Linked DNA regions of Homo sapiens: region 1 is linked to region 2. The links come from fine-mapping of genetic effects on gene expression. A gene starts in region 2. The other region holds a variant in brackets. All regions are shown on one strand. Distances are between the middles of the regions.

Region 1 (10,691 bases), 35 kb after region 2:
TTGCTGTGGGCTTCCCGCTGGCTGCTGGAATCAGAGCTCTGTCCTGGTAGGGTCTGCTCATTGTCCATTTGCATATTCCCGTCTCCCACCATCCAGAAAACAATGTAACAGGAAGGGCACAGTGGCTGACGCCTGTAATCCCAGCACTTTGGGAGGCCAAGGTGGGCAGATCACCTGAGGTCAGGAGGTCGAGACCAGCCTGACCAACATGGAGAAACCCCGTCTCTACTAAAAAGATACAAAAAAATTAGCCAGGCGTGGTGGCTTACGCCTGTAATCCCAGCACTTTGGGATCAGGAGTTCGAGACCAGCCTGACCAACATGGTGAAACCTCGTCTCTACTAAAAACATATAAAAAAATTAGCTGGACATAGTAGTGGGCACCTGTAATCCCAGCTACTGGGGAGGCTGAGGCAAGAGAATCACTTGAACCCAGGCGGCGGAGGTTGCAGTGAGCCAAGATAGTGCCAACTGCACTCTCCAGCCTGGGTGACAGAGCAAGACTCTGTGTCAAAAAAAAAGAAAAAAGAAAAAAAAAAAAGAAAACAGTGTAGCAGGCAAAGGTTTGATTTCCACACCAAAGCCTAACTCTGAGAGCATGGTTTTCTTCCAGATTCTCTCTAAATACTAATTTCAGGGAAGACAGGCCCATTCCCAGCCTCCTGGAAATCCTTCTCAACACAGTTCTTGAGTCTGTGGTCCCTCCCATGGTCCTCCCCACCAGCACTCTGCTGTAGCTCTCAGGCTGCTCTGCCACCTCCCCTCCCCATCTACCTGCTCAAGGACTGGCCCGTTTGCTGTCTTGGGTGGAAGGGGCAGTCCTGAACTCTCTTCTTCAAAGTGACAGTTTAATTCTCCACCCCTTAAATCTTGGCGGGAGGGGCACCTTGTGACTGCTTTTGTAACCGAACACACATTCAGCTGCTCAAAAGCCAAAACTCAAGAGACAGGAGTTGGTGGGAAGAAAGCAATTTATTCAGACAGCCAGCAAACCAAGAAGATGGTGGACTAGAGTCCTAATGTGCCATCTCAGGTGGGTACAAATTTCAAGCTCTTTTTATGTTAAGGGCAGAGAAAGAGAAGGTGGTTAGGATCAAGAAGTGATCTACAGTCGGGTGCGGTGGCTCACGCCTGTAATCCCAACACTCCCACTTTGGGAGGCCGAGGCGAGCAGATCATCTGAGGTCGGGAGTTCGAGACCAGCCTGACCAACATGGAGAAACACCGTCTCTACTAAAAATACAAAATTAGCCGGGCATAGTGGCGCATGCCTGTATTCCCAGCTACTCTGGAGGCTGAGGCAGGAGTATCACTTGAACACAGGAGGCAGAGGTTGCAGTGAGCTGAGATGGTGCCATTGCACTCCAGCCTGGGTGACAGAGCAAGACTCCGTCTCAAAAAGAGGTGACCTACATCTGGGTGGGGTGGCTCAAACCTGTAATCCCAGCACTTTGGGAGGCCAGGGCAGGTGGACCACTTGAGCTCACAAGTTCGAGACCAGCCTGGGCAACATGGTAAAACCCTGTCTCTACAAAAAATACAAAAATTAGCCTAGCATGGTGGTGTGCACCTGTAGTCCCAGCTACTCAGAAGGCTGAGGTTGGAGGATGACTTGAGCCCAGGAGGTGGAGGTTGCAGTGAGCCGAGATGGCACCACTGCACTCCAGCCTGGGTGATAGACCTTGTCAAAAAAAAAAAAAAAAAAAAAAGAAGTGGCCTATGAGCACAGACATCTCAGACATCTGGGCACCAGCAAGTCTGAGGAGGTTGGGAACTTCTTTGTCCTTAGTCAGGTCGCAATGCTTTTACACATATTTAATAAAATATTGTTAGTTGTTTATATACTTTCAACCTCAGAGTTAGTTTTTAAAACTACATGATTACTGTTTTTCCATATTATCTCAGTGCTCCGAAATTATCCTAGCCTACGTGCAGGATGGGTAAAGGCCCCTTGAACACAAACGGAGTGAGTTATGTTAGTTCTACTGTTTTACTGTTATACTTTGGCCAATTGAATACAGTGGAAGGGATGCTGTGCCAGTTCGGGAGTGGCCTGGAAACTGCTGGAAACTGCTAAACTGGCCTGGAGACTGCTACTTCCTGTGTCTTCGAAGTCCACTGGCACATGAGAAGTACAACTGCTCAGAGGCAGCCATGTTGAAAGGAAGCCCAAGCAGCCACATGAACACCCTGGTTTACAGGCCAGCAGATCCCCCAGCAACAGCCATCATTAGCTGCCAGCTACTTCCTGCAACAATGTGATCCTAGATTCAGCAAAACAAAACAAATCCTGTTGCTGGTTTCTCCTGCTCAGGCCTGGAGGCATCCAGACCTCACCAGAACAGACACACAATATAGTGGAACTGATGTGTAGACGCAGTCAACACACAAGAACAACCATCACCCGGGGAGTCAACCCTGACCCCAGGGCGGGGGAGACCAGAAACTCTCTCCCATGTCCTCTCTCCCCTCGGCCTCAGGAGGGACCCATGTGGGCACTGGCATCCAGGATGAAGACTACACTTCCCAGCATCCCTTGCAGCAAGCAGTGGCCATGTGACCAGGCTGTGGCCAATGGGGAGGCGAGGCCTGTGCACAGCGGCTGCCTTTAGAGGAAGGAAGTTTTGTGCCCTGTTGTCCCCTTCTCCTCTCCCTGCTGGCTGGCAGGAGACAGGGTGGACTCTCAGGGGGAAGCTACACCCTAAGGAAGTCAGAACAGCAAGATGGAAGGAGGCTAAGACCCTAAAAACTGCATAGAGAAGAATCTCCCGACTGCCTTGGACTTTCATGTGAAGGGAATGAACCTCTGTCTTAGTTAAGCCACCGTGATTCAGGGTCCTTGTCACATTCACCGAGGCTGTAACCTAATTGGTAGAAAGAACAGGAGCGGGAGGGGAGATGGAGTCAGAGAGGCAGGCAGAGGTCAGATCACATCAGGCCTGCAGGTCAAGATGGAGGAAGAAACAGGCAACATAGGACTCAAGGACCACACCTGCTCCCAGGTGAAGGGATTTTGCCGTGGGTGCCCCTCCCTGTCTGCTGGAGAAAGCTAATTTGACCCACTTCCCTTTAGGACTTTGCAAGATGCACATCACAGTCACAGGTACTTGTCTCCTAACAGTCCTTTCAGGGGAACTGCCCCACCCCTAATTAACCCAGCCTCAGGTATTCCTTTATAGCAATGCAGGTGGACTGACACATATCTTTAGTGTCGTGAGACTGTGACAAGAGCAGGAAAGAATCCTCGTGTGCATCCCTCTGAGCGTTGGGAGCTGTTGTTGTAGCAGCTGCTGTTACTCATCCTGACTGATACACAGACACCGCCAGTAGCCCTCTCTCCTGGAAACGCCATGTAAGTTAGGTGAGGCATGACCCAGGAAAGCTCTCAAGCTGACTTCCCTCCTACCCTCAGGGCTGCGGAGCAGGTCCCTCATTATCTAAGATCAGTTGGACACCTGTACGCCTGCCATGGCCTGGAGCAAGTGCCAGGCACTGTGGATGATGAATATGAGAACAGCATCAACCCTGCCCTCCTGCAGGTGACTGGCCAGACCGTGGGATTCCTCCACAACCAACTCTGCACACACAGCTCACTCATGTCGAGCAGGAAGCGGAGCTTGGGATCACCTGACCCGCTCCCCTCACCTGGGAGCAGCTTATATAGAAGCGCCTGTAGTTCACACAGGGCTGATGGTTCCAGCTTCCAAGACACCCCGAGGCCTCCTGGGCTGCTTGGTAATCAGACCAGGTACGTGCAAAGAGGCATGGCTCTTTATTTTCACTTAATTGAGAAAACCACATCAGCAAAGAGAGCATCCAAGCTCAGTGGCCCTTTCTCCCCACAACAGTGACCATTAACCTTTTAAAAGATGCTTTATGGGTTATTTGCCAAACCTCCTTCTTCATGCCGAGGTGTGATGAGGCTCATAAATAGGCCAGACTTGGGAGGGGACAAATGCGAGCAATGCCACCAATGAGAGGCCCAGGCAGAGCCGGTCTCGGGGCTGCCCAGCCATGTGTGCACCAAACATGGATGTGTCAGTGGCCGTGCCAGGAGTCAAGCTCTTGGCCAGGGGCCTCTGGGTGGCCAAGGCCAAGTCTTGTTCAAAAGGTGAGTTCAACTGAGCCAACCATGGCAGAAATACATAAGGGAGACCCCATGCCTCCTCTGGGTAAAATCCCCTGCTAATCCCACCTGGCTCAGAGGAGGAGCCATGTCCTCACAGCAGCCTGCAGTCCCCGCCTGACTCAGCCTCCTCTCGGCTCTGATTCTCCATGCCCCTCTACCCCTCTCTGTCTCCTCTCCCACCCCAGAAAGGGGATCCTGCAGGTTCATCCTGGTGGATTCAAACCCATCTTTGCCACACAGATAGTCATCAGAATGAATGGGCATAATCTATAAAGAGTCCTCTTGAAAAAGAAAAAGGCAGGCCAGGTGCGGTGGCTCACATCTGTAATCCCAGCACTTTGGGAAGCTGAGGCAGGCAGGTCACCTGAGGTCAGGAGTTCCAGACCAGCCTGGCCAACATGGTGAAACTCCACCTCTACTAAAAATACAAAAATTGGCTGGGCATGGTGGCTCACGCCTGTAATCCCAGCTACTCTGGAGGCTGAGGCAGGAGAATCGCTTGAACCCGGAAGGCAGAGGCCACAGTGAGCGAAGATTGTGCCATTGCTCTCCAGTCTGGATGACAGAATGAGACTCCGTCTCAAATAATAATAATAAAAGAAAAAGGTGCCAGGTGCTGTGGCTCACGCCTGTAATCCCAGCACTTTGGGAGGCCGAGGTGGGCGGATCACGATGTCAGGAGATCAAGACCATCCTGGCTAACATGGTGAAACCCCGTCTCTACTAAAAATACAAAATAATGGTAATAATAATAATTAGCCAGGCGTGGTGGCGGGCGCCTGTAGTCCCAGCTACTCTGGAGGCTGAGGCAGGAGAATGGCATGAACCCGGGAGACAGAGCTTGCAGTGAGCCGAGATCGTGCCACGGCACTCCAGCCTGGGCGACAGAGCAAGACTCCATCTCAAAAAAAAAAAATGAAAAAATAAAAAGGCAAAAATTCAGACAACTAAACGGAAACTGGGCAAAAGAGTTGAACCAG[A/C]CCTGGCTGGGCACAGTGACTCACACCTGTAATCCCAGCACTTTGGGAGGCCGAGGCGGGCGGATCACGAGGTTAAGAGTTCGAGACCAGCCTGGCCAATATTGTGAAACCCTCTCTCTACTAAAAATACAAAAAATTAGCTGGGCGTGGTGGTGCATGCCTGTAGTCCCAGCTACTCAGGAGGCTGAGGAAGAAAAATTGCTTGAACCCAGGAGGTGGAGCTTGCAGTGAGCCAAGATTGTGCCACTGCACTCCAGCCTAGGTGACAGAGTCAGACTCCGTCTCAAAAAAAAAAGAGTTGAACCAGCCCTTCACAGAAAAGGAAATGTGAAGGAAAGGGCAATAAAAACATGAAGAGGGTCTCAGCTAACAGGATGAGGATCACGTGTCACCCACCAGACAGCAAAAATCCCACAGCCCAATCAATGCAAGGATTGGGAAGAATGGAGAGCAATAGGAACCCTCAGCCACTGCTAAGAATGATGTGAAATTGTTTTTGGTATCCCTGCATATGAAAGGGTGTGTTTTGTGGGTTATGAGGAAAATTACATTTCTTACCTGGGATGAAATTGTAAAAACTGAAAGCTACTGACCAGGAGAAATGTGCACCTGTGTACAAAAGAAAGGCCCAAGAGCATTCCCAGCAGCACAGTCCTCAGGGCCCCAGCCTGGCTGAACTCTCGTCCACAGGAAGATGAAGACATTTCCCATGCTCCCCTCAGACGGCGGGAGATCGTGCAGCAATGAAAAAGACTCATGTTAGTGTGGGTGGGTCTCAGGAAGAGAATGGAGACGGGAGATCACGCAGCAATGAAAATGAACCATGTCAATGTGGGTGGGTCTCAGGGAGAGAATGGAGGACAGAAATAGACATCAAGCAGATACTCAGACCCAACGCAGTGTAGGAGCAGCCACCCAGGAGAATTCCTTCACATCAAAGTTCAAAACTACAGCCGAGGCAACAGAGCCCTGTCTCAAAAAGACAACAGAAAGTTGAAACAGAAACTAGAACGAGTCTGAGGGTCATGGAGCTGGAGACCCGGGGAGGAGTCAGTGCTGCTGTTCCAGTTTGCGGGTCGTGGATCTGGAGACCCAGGGTGGAGCTGGTGCTGCTGTTGTAGTTTGACGGTCATGGAGCTGGAGACCTCGGGAGGGTCCATTTGAAGAGCAGCACCGGCTCCTCCCTGGGCCTCAGGCTCCACGACCTTCAGACTTTAAAAGCGGTAATACCGGCTTCTCCCTGGGTTTCCAGCTATATAACCCTCAGACATGAAGCGCAACAGCACCGGCTCCTCCCCGCCTCCAGTTCCATGACCCTCAAACTACAACAGCAGCACCAGCCTCTCCCCAGGTCTCCAGCTCCACCACCTTCAAACTAGAACAACACCACCAGCTTCTCCCTGGGTCTCCAGTTCCACAACGCTCAAACTAGAACAACACCAGCTTCTCCCCAGGTCTCCAGCTCCACAGCCCTCAAACTAGAACAACGCTGGCACCTCCCTGATTCTCCAGTTCCATGACCCTATAATTAGAACAACACCAGCTCCTTCTCTGGTCTCCAGCTCCACAACCCTCAAACTAGAATAACACCAGCTCCTCTCCAAGTCTCCAGTTCCATGACTCTCAAACTAGAACAACACCAGCTCCTCCTCAGTTCTCCAGCTCCACGACCCTCAAACTAGAACAACACTGGCTCCTCCCCAGGCCTCCAGCTCCATGACCCTTAAACTAGAACACCACCACCAGCTTCTCCCCTGGTCTCCAGCTCCATAACCCTCAAACTAGAAAACACTGGCACCACCCCGATTCTCCAGCTCCACTAACCTCAAACTAGAACAACACCAGCTCCTCCTCAAATCTCCAGGTCCAGGACCCTCAAACTAGAAAAACACTGGCTCCTCCCCAGGCCTCCAGCTCTGCAATCCTCAAACTAGAACAACACCATCTCCTCCCCAGGTCTCCAGCTCTGTGAACCTCAAACTAGAACAACACCACCAGCTCCTCCCAGGTCTCCAGCTCCCCAACCCTCAAACTGGATCAACACCAGCTCCTCCAGGGTCTCCAGCTCCCCGACCCTCAAACTGGATCAACACCGGCTCCTCCAGGGTTTCCAGCTCCCCAACCCTCAAACTGGATCAACACCGGCTCCTCCTCAGTCTCCAGCTCCGTGACCCTCAAACTGGATCAACACCGGCTCCTCCTCAGTCTCCAGCTCCCCGACCCTCAAACTGGATCAACACCAGCTCCTCCAGGGTCTCCAGTTCCCCGACCCTCAAACTGGATCAACACCAGGTCCTCCAGAGTCTCCAGCTCCCCGACCCTCAAACTGGATCAACACCAGCTCCTCCAGGGTCTCCAGCTCCCCAACTCTCAAACTGGATCAACACCGGCTCCTCCAGGGTCTCCAGCTCCCCGACCCTCAAACTGGATCAACACTGGCTCCTCCAGGGTCTCCAGCTCCCCGACCCTCAAACTGGATCAACACTGGCTCCTCCTCAGTCTCCAGCTCCGTGACCCTCCAACTGGATCAACACCAGCTCCTCCAGGGTCTCCAGCTCCCCGACCCTCAAACTGGATCAACACTGGCTCCTCCCCAGGCCTCCAGCTCCGTGACCCTCAAACTAGATCAACACCAGCTCCTCCAGGGTCTCCAGCTCCCCAACGCTCAAACTAGATCAACACTGGCTCCTCCAGGGTCTCCAGCTCCCCAATGCTCAAACTAGATCAACACCAGCTCCTCCAGGGTCTCCAGCTCCCCAACCCTCAAACTAGATCAACACCGGCTCCTCCTCAGGTCTCCAGCTCCCCGACCCTCAAACTGGATCAACACCAGCTCCTCCAGGGTCTCCAGCTCCCCAATGCTCAAACTAGATCAACACCGGCTCCTCCTCAGGTCTCCAGCTCTGCGACCCTCAAACTAGAACAACAACACCATCTCCTCCCCGTCTCTCCTACTTGCATGTCCATTTATAGGCTCTCTGCAAGAAGAAAAATATGGCTTTTTTTGCCCGAACCTGCAGGCAGTCAGACCTTATGGTTGTCTTCCCTTGTTCCCTAAACATTGCTGTTATTCTGTTCTTTTTCAAGGTGCACTGATTTCATATTGTTCAAACATACATGTTTTACAATCAATTTGTACAGTTAACACAATTATCACAGTGGTCCTGAGGTGACTTACATCCTCAGTTTACAAAGATAACAGGAGTAAGTGACTAAAGTAAAGACAGGCATAAGAAATTGTAAAAGTATTATTTGGGAACTGACAAATGTCCATGAAATCTTCACAATTTGTGTTCTTCTGCTGCGGCTCCAGCTGGTCCCTCCATTCGGGGTCCCTGACTTCCTGCAACATGCTGGCATGCACCTGTAGTCCCAGCTACTCAGGAGGCTGAGGCAGAGAATTGTTTGAACCTGGGAGGTAGAGGTTGCAGTGAGCCAAGATCGCTGCCACTACACTCCAGCCTGGGCCACAGAGCGAGACTCCGTCTCAAAAAAAAAAGAAAGAACTGGAGGCTGACACAGGCCAAAGAAGCAGCTCAGGCTGAAATTGAACAGTACCACCTGCAGAGGGAGAAAGAGTTGAAAGCCAAGGAAGCTGCGGCACTGGAATCCATGGCACTGGCAGCACCAAAGTGGAGAAGGAGACCCAGGAGAAGATGACCATCCTCCAGACCTACTTTCCTCACAACAGGGATGAAGTCTGGGATAACCTCTTGGCTTTTGTCTGTGACATTCAGCCAGAAATGCATGAAAACTACCGCATAAATGGATAGAAGAAGAGAAGCACCTGTTCTTTGGATAGGCATTTTAGATGCCCTCATGAAATATGAAGCTTTAGCATAGCTCTAGTTATAGTCTTATGAAATTATGAAGGGGACCTGCCCCTCCACACCTGCGGGTATTTCTCACCAGGTGGAGATGAGAGACTGAGAAAACAAATAAGACACAAAGACAAAGTATAAGGGAAGAAAAGTGGGCCCAGGGGACCGGCACTCAGCAAGTGAGGAACTGCACCGACGCTGGTCTCTGAGTTCCTCAGTATTTATTGATCACTAGCTCTACTATCTCGGTGAGGGGGACATGGCAGGACTATAGGGTAATGGTGGGCAGAGGGTCAGCAGGAAAACATGAGCAAAGGACTCTGTGTCATAAATAAGTTTAGGGAAAGGTGCTGTGCCTGGATGTGCACGTAGGCCAGGTTTATGTCTGACTTTACACAAACCTCTCAGTGCAGTAAAGAGCAGTATTGCCGCCAGCATGTCTCACCTCCAGCCATGGGGCAGTTTTCTCCTATCTCAGTAAACAGAATGTATGATTGGGCTTTACACCAAGACATTCCATTCCCAGGGATGAGCAGGAGACAGATGCCTTCCTCTTATCTCAACTGCAAAGAGGCCTTCCTCTTTCACTAATCCTCCTCAGTACAGACCCTTTATGGGTGTCAGCCTGGGGGACGATCAGGTCTTTCCCTTCCCATGAGGCCATATCTCAGGCTGTCTCAGTGGGGGGAGACCTGGACAATACGCAGGCTTTCTTGGGCAGAGGTCCCTGCGGCTTTCCGCAGTGCACTGTGTCCCTGGTTAATGGAGAATGGAGAATGGCGATGACTTTTACCAAGCATACTGCCTGCAAACACATTGTTAACAAAGCACATGCTGTATAGCCCTAAATCCCTCAAACCTTGAGTTAACACAGCACATGTTTCTGTGAGTACAGGGTTGGGGCTAAGGTTACAGATTAACAGCATGTCAAAGCAGAAGAATTTTTCTTAATACAGATCAAAATGGAGTTTCTTATGTCTTCCTTTTTCTACATAGACACAGTAACAGTCTGACCTCTCTTTCCCCCACATTTCCCCCTTTTCTTTTTGACAAAACCACCATCATCATCATGGCCCATTCTCGATGGTCGCTGTCTCTTCGGAGCTGTTGGGTACAGCTGCAGACTGACAACAGACAGAAGCATTAACACGAAATTTACGATAGCGGAACTTCCGAGGGTTTTAACCCAAGTGACAGGGTTAAGACTTGTGAGGCCGGCTGGGCACGGTGGCTCACGCCTGTAATCCCAGCACTTTGGGAGGCCAAGGTGGGTGGATCACGAGGTCAGGAGATTGAGACCATCCTGGCTAACAGAGTGAAACCCTGTCTCTACTAAAAAAATACAAAAAAATTGGCTGGGCGTGGTGGCAGGCGCCTGTAGTCCCAGCTACTCAGGAGGCTGAGGCAGGAGAATGGCATGAACCTGGGAGGTGGAGCTTGCAGTGAGCCGAGATAGTGCCACTGCACTCCAGCCTGGGCGACAAAGTGAGACTCCGTCTAAAAAAAAGAGAGAGAGAGAGACTTGTGAGGCCATCAGCAACTCCCGCAATTGCCTCAGTTCCTGGTACCAAATTTAAATGGGCTTTTGATGCTTCAAAAATTTGTTCTTTTAATATCACCATTCTGTTCATCTGGCGAGTCAATGGTGCTCAATTGCGGTGTCTCTGTCTCCACGGAGGCGTTTTTCTTTGCATCTCCGATGGGTTCATTGTAGAACTTTAAATGTCTAGTGGGTATCCAAACAGGAAGCTGATTTTCTCC
Region 2 (10,396 bases):
AGAGCCTTGCTCTGTTACCCAGGCTGGAGTGCAGTGGCATGATTTCAGCTCACTGCAACCTCGACCTCCCAGGTTCAAGTGATTCTCCTGCCTCAGCCTCCCGAGTAGCTGGGATTACAGGTACCTGCCACTATGCCTGGCTAATTTTTGTATTTTAAGTAGAGACGGGGTTTCACCATGTTGGCCAGGCTGGTCTCAAACTTGTGACCTCGTGATCCGCCCGCCTGGGCCTCCCAAAGTGCTGGGATTACAGGCGTGAGCCACCACACCCAGCCTGTATTTTTTTTTTTTTTTTGAGCTAGAGTCTTGCTCTGTCGCCCAGTGGAGTGCAGTGGAGCGATCTCGGTTCACTGCAGCCTCTGCTGCCTGGGTTCAAGCGATTCTCCTGCCTTAGCCTCCCGAGTAGCTGGGATTACAGGCACCCGCCACCGCACCTGGCTGATTTTTGTTTTTTTTAGTAGAGACAGGGTTTCAGCATCTTGGCCAGGCTGGTCTTGAAATCCTGACCTCGTGATACACCCATCTCGGCCTCCCAAAGTGCTGGGATTACAGGTGTGAGCCACCATGCCCGGCTGTATTTTTTTTTTTTTTTTTTTGAGATGGAATTTCACTCTCGTTGCCCAGGCTGGAGTGCAATGGCATGATCTCGGCTCACCACAACCTCCGCCTCCCGGGTTCAAGCTACTCTCCTGCCTCAGCCTCCCGAGTAGCTGGGATTATAGGCATGTGCCACCACGCATGGCTAACTTTGTATTTTTAGTAGAGACAGTTTTTCTCTATGTTGGTCAGGCTGGTCTCGAACCCCTGAACTCAAGTGATTCACCTGGTTCAGCCCCCCAAAGTGCTGGGATTACAGGCGCCCAGCCTTTTATATATATGTCATAATATATACTATATATATATAATATTATATTATATTATATTATATATTATATATATATCTCATATATATATATATAATTTTTTTTGAGACAGAGTCTCGCTCTGTCACCAGGCTGGAGTGCAATGGTGTGATCTCAGCTCACTGCAACCTCCGCCTCCTGGGTTCAAGCAATTCTTCTGCCTCAGCCTCCTGAATAGTTGGGATTACAGGCGTGTACCACCACGTTTGGCTAATTTTTTGTATTTTTTAACAGAGACGGGGTTTCACCATATTGGCCAGGATGGTCTCGATTGCTTGACCTCATGATCCGCCCGTTTCAGCCTCCCAAAGTGCTGGGATTACAGGTGTGAGCCACCATGCCTGGCATATATATATGTTTTTTGAGACAGTCTCACTCTGTTGCCCGGGCTGGAGTGCAGTGGCACGATCCTGACTCACTCAACCTCCCAGGCTCAAGCAATCCTCCCACCTTAGCCTCCTGAGTAGCTAGGACTACAGGCGCCCACCACCACGCTCAGCTAATTTTTGTATTTTTTGTAGAGATGAAGTCTCAACATGTTGCCCGGGCTCCAAACTACTTTTTTGCACACAGGAGAGCTTTATTTCTCATAAGAGATTGCAGCCAGCAGGGCAGCCCTTCTGACAGGCTAGGAAGCGTAGCCTCAGGCCAGAAGCCTGGAACAGACACTTGGAGGGGAGGGACAGAGGGGACAGGAATTTACGCTGAAGGAGATGGCCAAATAGAGATGTTCAATAAGCTTCAGGAGGAGTCATGAATATTCATGAAAGGAGAAGCGTGTACTGGTCCAGCTGAGCAAATTCTCCATGGACTGCCCAGAACCAATCTCTGATCTCTTCTCGGGCCAGAAGGAGGGGCTGACCCCTTACCCCGTCATGGCTGAGGACTCGGGTTCAGGGTTTCTTTGGGATCCCCTTGGCCAGAAGAAGGTCCATTCATTCAGTTGGGGGGTTCATCTCAGACAACCTCCCGTCATCACCCCTTGAGTGAGACCTAAGCCTTCACCGCAGCCTTCGAGGTGCCGTGGTCTGGTGGGCCCCCTCCTGCTCCTCTGTGGCTCTCCCCGCCGCCATTCTGATACTGGCGTCCCCAATCTCCTTGAGAAACCATTTTCTCTACTCTGATGTCTTTTCAGAAGTCACATCCTGTTCTGGGGATGCACCCCTGCTCCTCCAGCCCCACCCAAACTGACTTAACACCCACCACCCTTCCCAGGTCAGCCCAAATGCCACTTCCCCCAGGAAGCTCTCCCTGATGCTGCCCTGGATGGAATGAGTCAGACCTGCTGTTGTGGGGCCCTGGCCGCGCCTAGATACACTTCTAGGGTCTATACTCGAGTATCCAGGTGATCTAGGGTCTATACTCGAGTATCCAGGTGACCACACTGCTGAAGTTGGCTTCTCCTGATCAGGCATCAACTCTGGGACTGCGTTTGCCGATTCTGTTCCCTAACGCAGCCGCAGGGGCCAGCACGCTGCCTGGCACGTCATGGGGGCTCCTCCATGTTGGGTGGATATGCGAACGGCTTCCTGAGAAAGTGCAGGATGTAAAGGAACGCGGAGGGTGGCGGCGGCGTGGAGGGCAGAGGCAAGGCACACGGCGAGGACTGCGTTGGGCCGGCCTGTGGTCTGTTTCACAGCAGACAGGGAATAGCAGCAGCCTGCAGTGTGCTCCAGAAGACAGTGGGGAAGGGGCCTGGCTGACATCTCGCCACCCGGTCAGCCTGTATCCTCCTTCCCCCATCTTTCTGTGATCATAAAGGATCCCTTGAGCCACTTGATTTTCACACTGTCAATGACCTAGAGTCACCAAACACCTCTCAACAAGCCGTGGTCTCCACTTGACATCTGGAACAACGCTCCTCGGGTCTGGGAGGACCACGCGTCGAAAGGGAAGAGCAGAGGACGCTGGCTCTCATGGCAGGATGGTGTGTGTACGGGACGCTGTGGGAGAGGAAAACAGCCACATGTGGGCTGGCTGCTTGGAGGAGACACATGAGCCGTGAACACGTCTCCCCCGGCCGCTCCCTGGTTCCATGCGTGCTCGTCTTGGGCACCACGAGAACACAGCCATGCAGCCCCCGATCCTGCAGCCACAGCCACGGCATCGCCTGGTCGGATGCAGCATCTGCTCCGGACGCCTCTCGCTGTCGGTGCCAGGCCTGCCAGGCCAAGCCCCGATTCTCAGGGGCGGCAGGAGGTGGGAGGCACGTTTGGGCGGATCTTTCAAATGGCACCTTTCAAATGGATCCTTTCATCTCTCCTTCCCCCAATGAATCAGCTCCCCAATGGGACGGGCAGGTAGGGCCAGGAGGGCAAAGGGCTGAGGGCACAGCTTACCGTCTTTCGGGAGGATGACGGCGGCCTTGGAGAGCCCCAGAATGTCACAAGCGTCCATGAATTCCTTCAGACTCTGGAAGCTCGAAACATTCTGCCTATCTGAGGTTGAGATCAGGATCACATCAGAGACTCCAGCTCTGGCCATTTTAGGGTCTGCACCCTGACCCCCATCCCTACCCCAGGAGCTGCTGAAATGTCCTCAGAGCTTAGGCGTGAAGCAGGGGTTGGCCAGGGGAGGACAGCGGCCGCTGGGCCCCTCCCCACTTACGAGGCAGCCAGGCTCGGGAAGCCAGGGTCACCACGCTGTCACCTGGGGAACCCTCTCTGCCTGCAGAGTCCCCTCCAGCCAGCCCCTCAGCTGTGCCCCAGCTTGCTGCACCCTGAGCGTGCCCTGCCTCGACTGAGACCCCAGGACCCCACCTCCCCTCTACCCGTTCCAACCGGGAGGGCCACTCCTTTCCGTGTACCCCAAGTGGTTGGTGTCTAGAATTGGGTTTGTGGCCCTTAACCCACACTGGGTCACTTCCACACCCCTCCATCCCGGGCAGACCCTTACCTGGGACCCCTCCCACGCCTCCTCATCCCCACTGTGTCCCTCACCCAGAACGTTGCACCTGCACCCGCCACCATCCTGGTGGCCTCCGCTCCCCCTGGATGGCCCACCTTTCTCTGCAGCCTCTTCCTGACGTCCCCTATCCTTGCTTCAGCGACCTCCAGGACCTGACTGCTGTGGTCTCGGCTTCCATTGCCCCTGCCCTGACCACCGCCCCAACCCCCACTCTCCCTGCCCGCCTCACCTCCTGCCCGGCCCCCTGTGCCCAGCGCCCCTCTATGCCTCCCTCTGCACCCCCTCCACCATCCTCTGCCATCCGCTGTGCCTGCTCACGGAAGAGCAGCAGGTTCTTGTAGTTTTGGGTTGCACGCCCCAGGCGGAGGTAGACCAAGCCGTAGCTGTAGTCAGTGGACAGCACGTGGAAGGCCTTCACCCCTTTCACTGAAAGAGATGCCCAGAGATGCCCGCTGGTTCCCGGATGGCGTGGCTGTGCCCGCCCACAGCCCTGACCCCTGGTGCCCGAGGCCTCAGAGCCCCCACCCAGGTGCAGGTGTCCAGAGGGACTGAGTGCCCTCCCGGGGCCTCCCCTCCCGGGCCAGGCCGCCCAGCACATGACGTGTGGGCTCTGGGAACACAGCCAGCCTGACGCCTGCCTGCCACGTGCTCTCGGGGACAAGGGGCCTGCTCAAGGCACAGGGGGGTCAGAGGCATATCACGCAGCTCCTCCAGGGCCCAGAGCCCAAGCACACCTCCCTCCTGTCCTTCCCTCGGGCCCGCCGCGTATGCACAGGCGTTCCCAAACACCGGCTTCTTCCCGTCTTTCCTCAGGATCACCTCCTGGGACTGGCACCCCTTCAACCTGGGGCCAAGGCGGGGGCTCAGGCTGCAGACCAGGGAACCCCTCCTCCCGCCTGCCAGCCACCGAGCCCCACCCACACGTCTCGGTCCCGCCCCTGCTCCCGTGGGACCCGGGAAGGTTGGGGCCCCAGGTCCCCAGTTTTTTGCTTCACTATCCAACTCGTGTCAATCTGAGGCTCTGTGGTTTGAGGATTTTCCAATTCGGACTGGGGCCTGTCCCACGGCACGAGAGAAACTCCCAACACCCACCCGTGTGGGGCCCAGGAGCTGCAAGCGGCTTCCTCCCAACACCTACCCATGTGGGGTCCCAAGGTCTGCAGGCAGCTTCCTCCCAACACCCACCCATGTGGGGTCCCAGGGGCTGCAGGTGGCTTCCTCTGAGTTTAGGGGGAGGAAGTGGGGGGACGGTTCTTGTGGAACTTCCAGACAGACAGGCTCCTCCCAGACTCCTTTCCAGCCCCGAGGCAGCTCCCTCCTCCTGGAAGGGGAGACCCTTGCCTGGGGGGCGCTGCCCACTCACCGTCTGAAGGCGAGGAGCACGCGGAGCTGGCCCACTTTGTTCACCTTTACCACGGACGCCCCCAGCTTCCTCTTGTCCCTGGCCGGCAAGAATCCCTGGGCATCAGTGGCAGTGGCCAGAATGTACCAGAACCCTGAAAACTGCGCAGCGGATGTGTGGGCGGGGACAGGAGCTGCCACCGGGGGCTGTCCCCACCCCCGAGGTTCCCAGCTAGAGAACCCAGGAGACAAATGACCCTTCTGTGAGCCGGAGTCCCAGCTCCGCCCAGGTGCCGCCTCGGTCCCGGCCACTCAAGCCCTGGCCACTGGAGCAGGGCTGCAGAGAAGCAGGTGCCCGGCTGGTCAGGGACCCCAGGCAGCAAAGGGCTGGGCTGTGGGCGCCAGCAGGTGGGAGGCCCCCTACCTCAGAGGCCCCGGCTCCTTCCCACATGGCCTCCTGGGGGCTGGGTACTGCTCGGCCACTTCCCTTCCTGCCGGCCCCCGGCCCCCAACTCTGCCTGCTGCCAACCCTAGCGCCCTGGGCACCGCCGTGCCAATGAGTGCTGCTCCCACGGCTCACTCAGCAGGTGCCCGGGCCCTCCCGCTACAGAATATGCCCCGCTTGCTCCACACCCACTCTGCACTCTGGGCGTCTCCCGACCTCCTCGGCCACAGCTCTCTGGGCCCCTCCACCCTGGCCCTCCCTGACCCCCCTGGGCCCCCGAACCCCCTCGAGGCTCCCTGCCTTTGCCCTGCAACTTGCGGGGCCCCTGTGCTGGAGGCTGCAGTGGGAGAGGCCAGGTGGGCAGCGCCCGTGCCTGGAACTGCTGGTAGCCCTGCTCCTGGGCGGCTGCCGGGAGACTGTGCAGGAGCCTGCTCCAGCTCCAGAGCCGGCGCCCGGCTCAGGGACCAGTGGCACATGGCTCACCTTGTTCCAGTTGAGGGCGTGGGACTCCCTGGGGTACCACTCCTGCACCTGGGACCCTGCAGCCAGCACTAGCACCAGCACCAGCACCAGCGCCAGCACCAGCAGCCCCTGCCTCATCTTCACCCTCCTCCCTCAGCCGCCAAGGCCAGTGTTTAAACCTCTCTGGAGCCGCCAGCCTGTGTCGGGAGAGGAGGGAGGGGAGGGAGCGGAGGGAGGCAACAGGTGTGGCCTTGGGCTCTGCTACCCTCTCCCCGCCCAGGGACCACCCCCAGACACTCCAGGGAAGCCGGCACTGCCCCACCTGGTGGTCACTGCTGGCCTGGGCTGCCCTGGCAGACAGAGGCCCCTCTGAGGCCCCAGGACCCTCCTGCCCTCAGTGCCCGGCCTGGGGTCACTGTGTGTGCCCCTGAGACTCATTAAGCCCTGGCCCTCATCCTAGACCTCCCAGGTGACAGGCAAAGGGCTGGTCGTGGCCCTTCTGGGGCAGATGTGGACATGGTGAGCTCTGCGCGGCAGCCACACACACAGCCCCCACCACCTTCTTGAGGGCCTGGCACCAAGCACCTGAGCAGGTGCCGAAGGGCGGGCCGGGGCTGTGTGCCCGTGCCCATGAATGTGTGTGTGTGCATGTGTGGGTGTGTGCTCACATGTGCATGCGTGTGCATGCCCAGCCTTGCAGGTCAAGGCATCTGTGTGCACCTCGCCTCACTCCAGCATGAGCCTCACACAGTCCCCAGCCCCCCATCCAGCCCCGAGACCCCCATGGCCTGTGCTTCTCCCAGGACGGCAGGCAGCGCAGCCCCCCACACCCATCAGAACACAGGAGGACCTGCAGGCTCAGGTGTCTGGGGTCCCTGCCCCTGCCCAGGCAAGAGACACAACCCCAGCCCAGAGAAGCCTGAGCCTGGGGAGTCAGGGGCTGCTCTGAGCCCCACCAGCCACCTCTCTCTTGTCCTGGGCAGTCCTTGGAGCCTCTGGCACCCCAGCTGCGGTCCTGGTGGAGCTCACTGCTGGCTTCCTCCCAGGCTGTGTCCTCTGACCAGCCCCCGCCTCTGAGCCCGGGCCTGAGTTTGGGTGTCTGAAGACCCAGAGGGGCTCTGGCAAGGGACTGGGTTGGGCACGCGTCTTCTTTGCAGCTGGCTCTATGGTTCTGTGGCTTGGCCCTTGGTGACGACCCCCGCCATCCTCCCCGCAATTCCCCGGCTGGCCCCCAGTCAAAAGCATCCTTGGTTTGCTGTGGAATCGCTTTATTCTGAGCTGGTGCTGGGCCCCGGGAGCCGCTGAGCGAGGTGGGTGGACACTGGCCGAGGTCACAGGACCCTGTGGGCGCCATCCCTACTGGGGACGCAGCACTCACTGAAAACCAAGAGGAGTGTGAGGGGGCCCAGCCCACCATGGAGGCTCCTCCACACCCTCAGCTGCCTTAGAGACAGTGGAGCCATGAACCCCGTGGGCTTGGGCAGAGGGTCCTCCCACCCACTGTGCGTAGGGTGGCCTCCCCCACCCCCTTCCCCCAAGAGAGCCCAGGGTGAGGCTCAGGATGGCGGCTTACCAGAAGGATCTTGTGAGCACAGGTGACTAGAAGGGGAGGCAAGACTGGCTGTGAAAAAGGACTGAGCCCCCCAGCACCCCAGGGCCCCACCCACAAGACTCGCCTGCCGTGGGGACAAGACCCCCAGGCCTGACTTTGGGCAGGGGCAGGTGAAGACCCCCTCAGCCTGCCTGACTCCTTCAGGGCGACTGAGTCAGGCAGAAGCCAGAATCAACCCCAGGGTCTCTGTCACCCCATCACGCCCTGTGGGCTCCAGAACTTGCCCCAAGCCTCCCCCGAGGCTGCTCCGGTGGACACTCACGGTCCTTCTGCAGCTGGGCCTGCTACTGTGACAGGAAGCCCAGGCTCCTGCTCCACTTGGTGAAGAGCCCCATGGCCTCCTGGCTGGCTGTCTCCGTCAGACCTGGGGGCACCAGGGCAGTGCAGGGGGAAGCAACCTCTGAGAGCTGGGGAGGGGCCGGGGAGGGGCTGGGAAGGGTCAGGAAGGAGGCCACCTGCCCTGGGATGCTGGCCCCGGTCCTTCCAAAGCCACCTCCAGTGCAGCGAGCCTCAAGGTGGGGGAACTTGGCCTGCATGTGGTCCTGTGCGGCCCACCCACCACACAGCTCCCCACATGGCCCCCGAGCGGCCCACTCACCACACAGCTCCCCATGTGGCCCCAAGCGGCCCACTCACCACACAGCTCCCCACATGGCCCCCGAGCGGCCCACTCACCACACAGCTCCCCACGCGGCCCCCAAGCGGCCCACGCACCACACAGCTCCCAACGTGGGCCCCGAGTGGCCCACGCACCACACAGCTCCCTACGTGGGCCCCGCACAGCACACTTACTGTACAGCTCCACGGTGTTGAAGGGCTCGTCCCCGAACTCCAGCTGAGTGAAGATGATGGCATAGTCTCTGAAGTTGGTGGCCAGCACCCAGAGCTCCAGCACGCCTATTGCTAGGAAACAAAACCCCCCGCCTCAGGGGAGGGCAGCTGCTGTATCCATCCAGGGGCCGCTGAGCTGATGCTGGCCACAGGGACAGAGGGGCCAATTCAAGTGAGAGCCCCCCTCCCCAGGAGACCCCTCCAAGCACACCCAGAGCCCCCAAGCTTTGTCCCCCACCCCCGACCCCACCTGGTGCCAGCATCAAGGGGCTTTCAGACACTGACGGACAGACAGACAAGCACTGCCCCAGCCTGTCCCAGGTGTGAACGAGGAGCGGCTGGGTCACACCAGCCCAGCCCTGTACCTGTAGACAGCCACTAAACAGGCCCCTCGCCCTCTGCACCTATGGGGACCTTGGCTGGACCTCACTGGTGTCTGAGCCTGCTGGGAACAAGGTTCCAATCCTCTGTCCAGGGGCTTCTCTTCACCCTCAGGATGGGCAGCAATCCCAAGACCAGAACCTGTAGCCTCCTGGCTCTCGGGAGCGGAGTCAGCCCTCCGTCCCTGCCCGCAGGGGGCCTGGGGATGCTGCAGGGAAGAACGGCCTGGGTGAGGCCGTGGCCGTCAGACTCACAGGGATTCTCAAACACCCATCCGGAGTTTCGCTTTATCAGGTCCATGACACTCTGGTCACACCCTCCCAGCCTGGAAAAGAAGGGGCCTGTCACCCACTCAGGGTCAAGACCCCGGGGCCCGGTGAGAGGAGACGGAGCTCAGGAGTCCAGGCCAGGCCAGCCAGCAGTGAGGCCAGAGCTTCCATCTTCTGCCAGATGCCCCGATGCCCGGAAACCTGTTCTCGGAGAGTGGACGGCGTGGGAGTCCTGAGAGGGGCGGACACTCCCATTCACTTCCTGAGAGATCCTCAGTGCCAGATCTCCACCAGGAACGCTGAATGCTGCTGAGGACACAACAGGAGACTCGACAGACGGGAGGTTCGCCCGCGACTCGGGGGAAAGATGGGGTGGGGTGGGGGTTCGCCCGTGACTCAGGGGAAGGATGGGGCGGGGTGGGGGTTCGCCCGCAACTCAGGGGAAGGATGGGGCGGGGTGGGGGTTCGCCCGTGACTCAGGGGAAGGATGGGGTGGGGTGGGGGTTCGCCTGCGACTCAGGGGAAGGATGGGGCGGGGTGGGGGTTTGCCTGCGACTCGGGGGAAGGGGCCGGCGCTCCCTAAGTGGTCAGTCCCCAGAGTGAGCAAAACCCAGCAAAGGTGCAATGGTGTTTGCCAAGGAAGGAAACTGAGGCTGAGTCCATGCGGGAGGAACAGCAAGAAGAACTAGGAAAGCCACGTGGGAGCTGCCACCTCAGCCTGGAGCCCCTTGGTCCCAGCTCGCCCTGAGGCCAGGCCTGGCCCGGGGGGTGCAGTGGGGCCCCTGCCCATACCCTGCAGGCGCAGGTGCAGGGGGAAGGCACGCTGGTGAGGAGGGCAGGTTCTTCTCTCTGGGCCCCGTACCTGGCTCAGTGGTTCAGGCCTGGGCTCTGTCGCCAGCCTGCCAGGGGGTAGACACCCACCACGCCACCCAGCAGGCCACTCTTCTGTGAAGGGAGGCGGGCACCGACTCCTGCCCCAGCACGGCTACCCCCACAGCCCGGCTGCCCTGTAGGTGTCCCCTGTGTAGCACGGCCGCCCCACAGCCTGGCCCACCCGACCCCTGCACGCCGCCACCAGCCATGCATGTGGTCGGGTGCGCCTGCCTGAGGCCACAAGGCCAGTCTGGCCAACAGCGTCCATGACCATATTGTTTGGGGATTTATGTTATGAAAGAACCAGTGGTTCTTAGGTCCGAATGCATTATCCTCCTTTAAACAGAATTCCCGAAAAAGGCCTGCTGAGAGG

What was found.
Region 1: its variant is fine-mapped to the expression of LCN10 in subcutaneous fat (GTEx, PIP 0.96).

What each region holds. Positions count from the first base shown.
Region 1 is chr9:136,771,337-136,782,027 of GRCh38, forward strand. It overlaps the pseudogene ATP6V1G1P3. Among named protein-coding and RNA genes, the nearest start is that of LCN15, 12 kb to the left of the region's middle. RefSeq lists an enhancer at 2,421-2,715. The variant A/C (reference allele first, on the strand shown) is at 5,110.
Region 2 is chr9:136,736,709-136,747,104 of GRCh38, forward strand. LCN10 (lipocalin 10) reads right to left here and starts at 6,232. Exons shown (of 6, transcript NM_001001712.3): 1 at 6,079-6,232; 2 at 5,173-5,312; 3 at 4,544-4,653; 4 at 4,128-4,235; 5 at 3,242-3,340; 6 at 1,462-2,845. The coding sequence starts at 6,195. The coding sequence ends at 2,817. LCN6 (lipocalin 6) reads right to left here. Exons shown (of 7, transcript NM_198946.3): 3 at 9,136-9,206; 4 at 8,462-8,572; 5 at 7,932-8,033; 6 at 7,631-7,656; 7 at 7,309-7,434. The coding sequence ends at 7,954. MIR6722 (microRNA 6722) reads right to left here and starts at 10,262; the gene lies at 10,185-10,262. LOC100128593 (a long non-coding RNA gene) reads left to right here and starts at 9,453. Exons shown (of 3, transcript NR_033913.1): 1 at 9,453-9,493; 2 at 10,370-10,396. RefSeq lists a silencer at 5,637-5,736.